Homo sapiens: one gene and its partner. The protein of the gene in region 1 purifies or fractionates together with the protein of each later gene. This does not show direct contact. Each region holds a gene or a part of one and is shown on either strand. Other genes may lie near its edges.

Region 1 (3,915 bases):
CAGCTGCCAGAAGCTTCTTTTTTTTTTTTTTTTTTTTTTGAGATGGTGCCCAGGTTGGAGTGCGATGGCACAATCTCCATCTCAGCTCACTGCAATCTCCGCCTCCCGGGTTCAAGTAATTCTCTGAATTCTCTGGCGTCAGCCTCCCGAGTAGCTGGGATTACAGGCACATGCCACAATGCCTGGCTAATTTTTTTTTTAAGACAGAGTCGCACTCAGTCGCCCAGGCTGGAGTGTAGTGGCTCGATCTCGGCTCACTGCAAGCTCCGCCTCCCGGGTTCACGCCATTCTCCTGCCTCAGCCTCCTGAGTAGCTGGGACTACAGGTGCCCGCCACCACGCCCGGCTAATATTTTGTATTTTTAGTGGAGACGGGGTTTCACCGTGTTAGCCAGGATGGTCTCAATCTCCTGACCTCGTGATCCGCCCGCCTCGGCTTCCCAAAGTGCTGGGATTACAGGCGTGAGCCACCGCGCCCGGCCTATTTTTTTGTATTTTTAATAGAGACGGGATTCACCATGTTGGCCAGGCTGGTTTTGAAATCCTGACCTCAAGTGATCTGCCCGCGTTGGCCTCCCAAAGTGCTGGGATTACAGGTGTGAGCCACCATGCCCCGCACCAGAAGCTTTTTGTAGAGACTCAGGGACAGCATGTGCCCCTGACTCCAAAGCAGCCACTGCCGAAGGACAGAGGAGAAAGCAAAACCGAAATCGAAAGGGAACTCCTGGGGAGAACGCAGCCACTGTCACCCCAGGGCTACTTCCTCCCTGGATGGAATCTGTCATCCTCAAAACTTGATTTAATCCTTATTGGAGATCCCTGGCCTCCACCCCTGCCTCGCCAGACCTCTCCCTCTGCGGATGGGAACGTGGTGCAGACCCTCCATCCAGGAGGAGGCCTCGCCTCTGGTGAGGCAGCTGACACCACCCACCCCTCTCCTGCCTGGGGGACCCCCTCACTTCCCCTCCCACGCCTCCGAGATACCACCAGCATTTGTGTTCATATGACTGGGATCACCGTGGTGGGCGAACCCAGTACCTGAGGTGAGAGGCTGTGGAGAGGACCCTGGCTGGGGAATCGGGGCCACCCGCCCTGCTTTGGGGGTCCAAGTTCCATCCTGTGCCACCTCGGCAGGGCTCCTAACCCGAGCCGGCCGCCCCACCTGTTGGAGGCAGGTGACTCTTTGACAGTCACAGCAGCTGGCACTCATTGCATGCTCTCGTGTGCCAAGCTCCAAGGGCACTGCCCACGTCATCTCACTGCTCCCTGTGGCAACGCTCGGAGGTGAGTTCCACGACCTCCCCACTTCCAAGATGTGGAGATGGTAGGCACACGGGGTCCTGGCACTAGGCTGGGAGGTGACAGAGCTGGGGTCCCGTCCTGAGAGGCTCTACCATCTGCACCAAGCTCCCCCTCTCCCCATGGCTTGTGGGTCAGATCCAATGAGACGGTGAACATGGAAGTGCTCCAGGCCATGCTCCCTGAAAGCAGCTGCTGGCACTGTCATCCCTGCACTATGAGGACCATTCCCACAGGGAAGTCCAAGGCAGCATGAGCGCCAGGAATGATAGGGAGCCGTGAGGAGGGCCCAGGTTCCTGGGCGGACGCTGCAGACACTCACCCCTTGCCCTCACTCTGGTTCTCTTTGACTGGCTTCTTGCCGTGTTTCTCTTTGCTTCGTAAATAATCCTTCAGCTTCTCGGCCCGGTCTAGGTACTGCACGCACTTGGCTCGAATGCTCTCCTTGGCCTTGTCGCTGTGGGCCTCATCTGTGAAAGGGAACACAGAGGGGCCCCTGTGAGGCTCGTGCGCCACCCCCTCTCCTCCGCTCCCCTCTGGAGTGCGGCAGCCTGAGGACCCCTCGTGTGACTCACACTTGATAGCGTGGAGGAAGTACTCCACCGCATGCTGGTACAGCCGCAGCGCCTCCTCGTAGTTCTTGGCTTTGTCCTCCTCTGTGGCTTTCGTCACCAGATCAATGGCTTTCTGGAAAGGCAAAGCAAATGGCTCAGTGCTTCCTCGGAGAGGTGGAAAGTCCCTGGGGTCACAGGCATGGGGATGAAACGTGACGAGGGATGCCGCTGGGCCTGTGGATTTATTGCTTGCGGGCCATTTCATTGGCCTACTTTTTCAACATCGGCTAGAAAGGCCTTCAAAGAAGGCTTTGAAAACCAGCCGGCCATCTTCACAATAAGCTCAGACGGTTAAAAGCCACGCTCTGGATTTCAGCAAGTGGAAACCTGACCTAATATCTCAGGTCAGGGCTCAAGGGGCAAGTTCATGGGACTTTCTATTCTGCTGCCTCAAGGGAAAGAGAAACAGACCCGAGCTGAGAGCCTGGCAGAAGGGACACGCGGGAGCAAGTGACTGCTGGTTTGTTTAGCAAGGAGACCAGAAATTGCACCCGGCCTCAGGGCCAGAGAAGAGCCAGCCAGAAGGAAAGTCCTGCCCGGACTGCAAGTTTGCACAGGATACACTGAAAGGCCTCTCTCCTCCTCCTCCTGGCTCCATGCAGCTTGCTTCTCCAGGCTGCAGAGAGAAGACAGTTTCCTTCGCTGTCTAAAGTGACACCCTGGGAAGGGACGCTTACACACAATGCTCCACATACCAGTAGCTCCAGTAAGAAAAGTACTTGCTTGCTCCCTGCTGCCAACAGAAGAGAACTGTGTCCCTCTGGAACCTTCTAAGAGCTCTGTGAGAATGAGTGTCTTTGGGAATCTCATAAATCCTGTAGGCCAGTGCCTTAGGCTGAACTGAAAGCACCTACGTGGTTTTATTTATTATTATTATTTTTTGAGACAGAGTCTTACTCTATCATCTAGGCCGGAGTGCACTGGCGCGATCTCGGCTCACTGCAACCTCCACCTCCTGGGTTCAAGTGATAGATGCCCACCACTACATCCGGCTAATTTTTGTATTTTTAGTGCAGACAGAGTTTCACCATGTTGGCCAGGCTGGTCTCGAACTCCTGACATCAAGTGATCCACCCGCCTTGGCTTCCAAAGTGCTGGGATTACAGAAATGAGCCACCGCGACCGGTCAGTAAAGCACCTACATGGTTTTAAAGCCTGGTTTTAAAAACCGCAGCTTCACCAACGCCTGCACGAAGCATGACCAGAATTCTCCTCCTCAGATCCGGCACCAGTTACCAGGCAGGCAGTCCCACCGCAGACCCACGGTTCCAGGCACAGCAAACAATAAACCTCCTGACCGGCTCTTGGCAGGGCCGGGGCATTTGTTCAGCCCTCTCTTATCTGCAAGGAAGAAGTCTCCGAAAGAAACACACACAGACAGCTCGACAAAACAGACAGGCCAGGGGAGGCTGGGCCAGGCTGATGTGAAATGAACTCAGCGGATTGAAGAGATGAGAAGAGGGGTGAGTGCTGGCCATTATTTTCAAGCCTCTGCTCCCTCTACTACCTACAATGAATGGCTGGGAGCCCCAAACCTTCTTGGAAATGAGCTTAGGCACAGGCTGCCCTTGTCTGCCCTCTTCTGCATGATGTTCCTTCAGATGAGACAGGAAGGCAGCGCTCCTCTCCCTGGTGGCTTCTCGTCTCCAGAACACACACCCCCAGTACCTTGGACTTTTTCACTCTCTGTAGCTTCATGCTTGGGTCTATCCTTAGAACAATACTGAAGGTATTCTTTGTCCCATAAGGAGCAGCACTGACCCATCCCCTCCCTCCTTTTGGAAATTCTAGTAATACACCTAAGAGTGTGCTGGGGCTGGGCACGGTGGCTCATGCCTGTAATCCCAGCACTTTGGGACGCGGAGGCGGGCGGATCACCGGAGGTCAGGAGATTGAGACCATCCTGGCTAACACAGTGAAGCACCATCTCTACTAAAAATACAAAAAGTTAGCCGGGTGTGGTGACGCGTGCCTGTAGTTACGGCTACTTGGGAGGCTGAGGC
Region 2 (3,915 bases), on another chromosome or scaffold:
AAGTATGACAGCTGTTCTAAGCACAGACTTATCCTTTTAATTCTTCTCATAGGAATCTGTCTGCTATTCAGGATAGAGAAATTTGCTGCTATTCAATTTCTTGCAAAGAAAAGGATAATATAGGTAAGAAATGACTGGTAATTTTGGAAGAAATGGGTATCATTGGAAGGAATGTCTATGCTTCTTACAGCTTATTGTCTCGATTTCTCATTAAGTGACTTCCTTTTCAGAATACTGTTGCTTTTGCCTGAGAAAAAAGAATAGACATACCTTTTGACAACAAATATAGTGAACCTTCACTTAACATCATTGATGGCTTCTTTGAAATTGCAATGTTATCTCTCTCTCTCTCATACAAATATATATATAATATAATATATGTAATATGTATTATATATTATATGTAATATATATGTAATATGTATTATATATTATATGTAATATATATGTAATATATAATATATATAAATATATATTATATATAACATAAATATATATATATAAATAATATTATATGTATATGTATTTTTTGAGACAGTGTCACTCCTTCACCCAGGCTTGAGTGCAGTGGCGTGATCTCGACTTACTGCAACCTCTGCCTCCTGGGTTAAAGCGATTCTTGTGCCTCAGCCTCCTGAGTAGCTGGGACTACAGACGTGCACCACCACGCCCGGCTAATTTTTGTATTTTCAGTAGCGACAGGGTTTCCATGTTGCCCAAGCTGGTCTTGAACTCCTGACCTCAAATGATCCAACTGCCTCGGCCCCCCAAAGTGTTGGGATTACAGGTGTGAGCCCGGCCTATATGTTATCAAACTCTTGAACAGCAAAAAATTTTTTAAAAAGAGGAAATTGCACTTTTAAGCGAAATGACATACAGTAGGCCCTCATTTCGTTCAGCGTTACAATGTTAATGAGAAAAAAATAGTTTTGTTATACACCATTTCACTTAAAGTGGCAGTTTCCAAGAACCTATCAGTGATGTTAAGTGAGGACTGAATGTATAACATCCTGAATCTTCTTTGTGCTATTTAAAGAAGAAAATGCAATAAAGTCGTGAGGTTAAGATTATGTGATACCAATTTATTGTGTTAATTTTTGCAGAGCTAGTATCCCGCTGTGCTTTATAACAAAATGGCATTTTTGAAATAAGACTTTACAAAAATTAGTCTACAGGCACTACAACAATTTTTCAGTTATTGAACCAGTATATTACTGCAATATGTTAGCACTCTATTGGAATTATATGCCCAAAATACCCTTCATTTACTCAATGCCCATATTAACTTCTTAGAACTGCCATAACAAAGTACCACAAACAAGGTGGCTTAGAACAGCAGAAACTTAAGTCATTCAAAATTCTAGAGGCTGGAAGTCCAAAATCAAGTTGTCAGCAGGGTCGTGTTCTCTCTGAAGGCTGTAGAAGATCCCTCCTTGCCTCTCTCTAGCTTGTGGTGGTTGCCAGCAATCCTTGGCATTCCTTCACTTGTAGATATACCACTCCAGTCTCTGCCTCACATTCATGCTTCTCCCCTGTAGTTGTCTCTGTGTCAGTGTATTATGTTTTCCTAAGGACGCAAGTCACTGGATTAGGTAGGGCCCACCTAATCCAGTATGACCTTATCTTAACTAATAACTTGCAGAGACCCTATTTCCAGTAAAAGTCACATTCTGAGGTTCTGGATGGACATGACTTTTTAGGGGGACATTAAACATTCTAGCATAGTATGGTTACAGAATAAGTATGTATGGCTCAACTTTAGTTTCTTAACTAATTTGGTTTGAGATGATTTGATAAATGAATGTATTGGAACAAAATGTAATAAATAGTACCAGAATAGTATATCTATAAAGTTTATGCTGATATTTTTTCTTTAGCTTTTGTATTCCAGTCTATCCTTCCCTAACTCACCTTCCACCCCGCCTGCAAACATGGCTTTATTTATTTTTATTTTTTTAAGATGGAGTCTCACTCTGTCGCCGTGGCTGGAGTGCAGTGGCAAGATCTTAGCTCACAGCAACCTCCACTTCCCGGGTTCAAGTGATTCTTGTGCCTCAGCCTCCTGAGTAGCTGGGATTACAGTTGCCCACTACCACGCCTGGCTAATTTTTGTATTTTTAGTAGAGACAGGGTTTCATCATGTTGGCCATGCTGGTCTTGAACTCCTGACCTCAGGTGATGCACCTGCCTCAGCCTCCCAAAGTGCTTAGATTGACAGGCATGAGCCACCACGCCCAGCCACAAATATGCTTTATTCAGTTTAAAGTGTGGATAGTCGTTCTGGCTAATTTTGGGCTTCCTTTAAAGACCATCCAGGGCAGTCTCAGCCTTAGTAACAGCGGATAGACACAAATTTTCCTTTATAAATGGATAGAATAATTCACTTGTTACATTGGGAGCATTTATTTGAGAACAGACTCCTCAAGCACTTGTGGTTACTTAGACTTTATTTAAAAGTTTTTTCTCTATGTGGCGGGGAAAACTCTTTTTAAAATTTAAGATATGCCCCATGAGAGCATTTATTTCTACATCAGTGGTTCTCAATGGGGAGCTTTTCCCCCAGGAGACTTGACAATGTCTGGAGACATTTTTGGTTGTCATAACTAGGAGGGTGATGCTGGCATTTAGTGGGTAGATACCAGAAATGTAGCTAAACATACTATAACCTCCACAGCAAAGAATTATCCAGCATAAAATGTCAGTTGTGGCAAGGTTGAGAAATCCTGTTCTACACTAACCGTAATTTTTAGTCCATTGTGCTATTTTGTAAATCCATTACTCCCTACATGTTTTCTGTTTTTCCATTGTTACAAACTAGTTGGATACTTCCTGAAAAAAAAACAAAATCTCTTGGGCTCATATATGGAAGTGCAGTAGAGCTGTGAGGACTTCTTTCGCTATTTGAGGCTGATCTTTATAGTTGGCTAAATAGCTCAGTAGTAATTTTAGAACTCCTGGCTCACTTAAAAGGTTGTCAAGCCCAAGGAATCTGATCCAGTCTAATAAGATCCACTCTAATAAAATTCGAAATAAGTATTTTGTAGATCAGTTCATCTGAGTATCTTATTTCTGTTGTCTTTTTGCCTATTCATAAAGATCCATTTGTCTTTAGGATATGAACTTCTATCAGTATCCACAGAGGCTTTGTGTAATTTTTTAGTGAATTTCTTTTTTTTTTTTTTTGAGATGGAGTTTCACTCTTGTGGCCCAGCTGGAGTGCAGTGGCGCAATTTTGGCTCACTGCAACCTCCGCCTCCTGGGTTCAAGTGATCTCCTGCCTCAGCCTCCCGAGTAGCTGGGATTACAGGCGCCCGCTGCCGTGCTCGGCTAATTTTTGTATTTTTAGTAGAGATGGGGTTTCACCATGTTGGCCAGGCTGGTCTCAAACTGCTGACCTCAGGTGATCACCTGCCTCGGCCTCCCAAAGTGTGGGATTACAGGTGTGAGCCACCGTGCCCGGCCATGAATTTCTTAAATATTTAAATTTGGTTATTTCACTTCAGATTTACCTTTCTCCCATTCAGTTCCAATGAGTGTGGCTTTGCTCGTATTGTGCACTGTTGTCCCCATTTTAAGGTGCAGAGGTGCTTCTTCAGTAGTTGGGTTAAATCATTGCTTCCACAATGGTGAACAGTTCATGTTTGTTATAGCTCAGCCCTGTGGTGTTTCGTTAATGCATGTTAGCTGGGAAACTGGTAGTGAATTTACCCTCATCTTTCAGGCTTGGAGAATAGAGTGGTGCTTCTGATAGACTCTCATGTACCCTTCTGAAGAAGTGAGGACAAGAATTACCCAGCCCCAGATGTCAAAAGGGCATGGTGTGAACCCTGCACCAGCCTTGGCAGTGACAGCCTCCTCTCCCATCCCTGTGCTTTAGTCACATTGTATCACTCACAATCCATCCAGAGCTCCACA

Evidence for each region.
Region 2: the proteins of VPS4A (region 1) and ARL8B purify together in Homo sapiens (affinity purification with mass spectrometry; 2 studies listed by BioGRID and IntAct, with this or other methods). This does not show direct contact.

What each region holds. Positions count from the first base shown.
Region 1 is NC_000016.10:69,314,078-69,317,992, reverse strand, and holds part of VPS4A (vacuolar protein sorting-associated protein 4A), read right to left. Parts: intron 1,986-3,915; coding exon 1,874-1,985; intron 1,769-1,873; coding exon 1,621-1,768; intron 1-1,620. UniProt on the Homo sapiens protein: Involved in late steps of the endosomal multivesicular bodies (MVB) pathway. Recognizes membrane-associated ESCRT-III assemblies and catalyzes their disassembly, possibly in combination with membrane fission.
Region 2 is NC_000003.12:5,174,292-5,178,206, forward strand, and holds part of ARL8B (ADP-ribosylation factor-like protein 8B), read left to right. Parts: intron 1-52; coding exon 53-123; intron 124-3,915. UniProt on the Homo sapiens protein: Small GTPase which cycles between active GTP-bound and inactive GDP-bound states.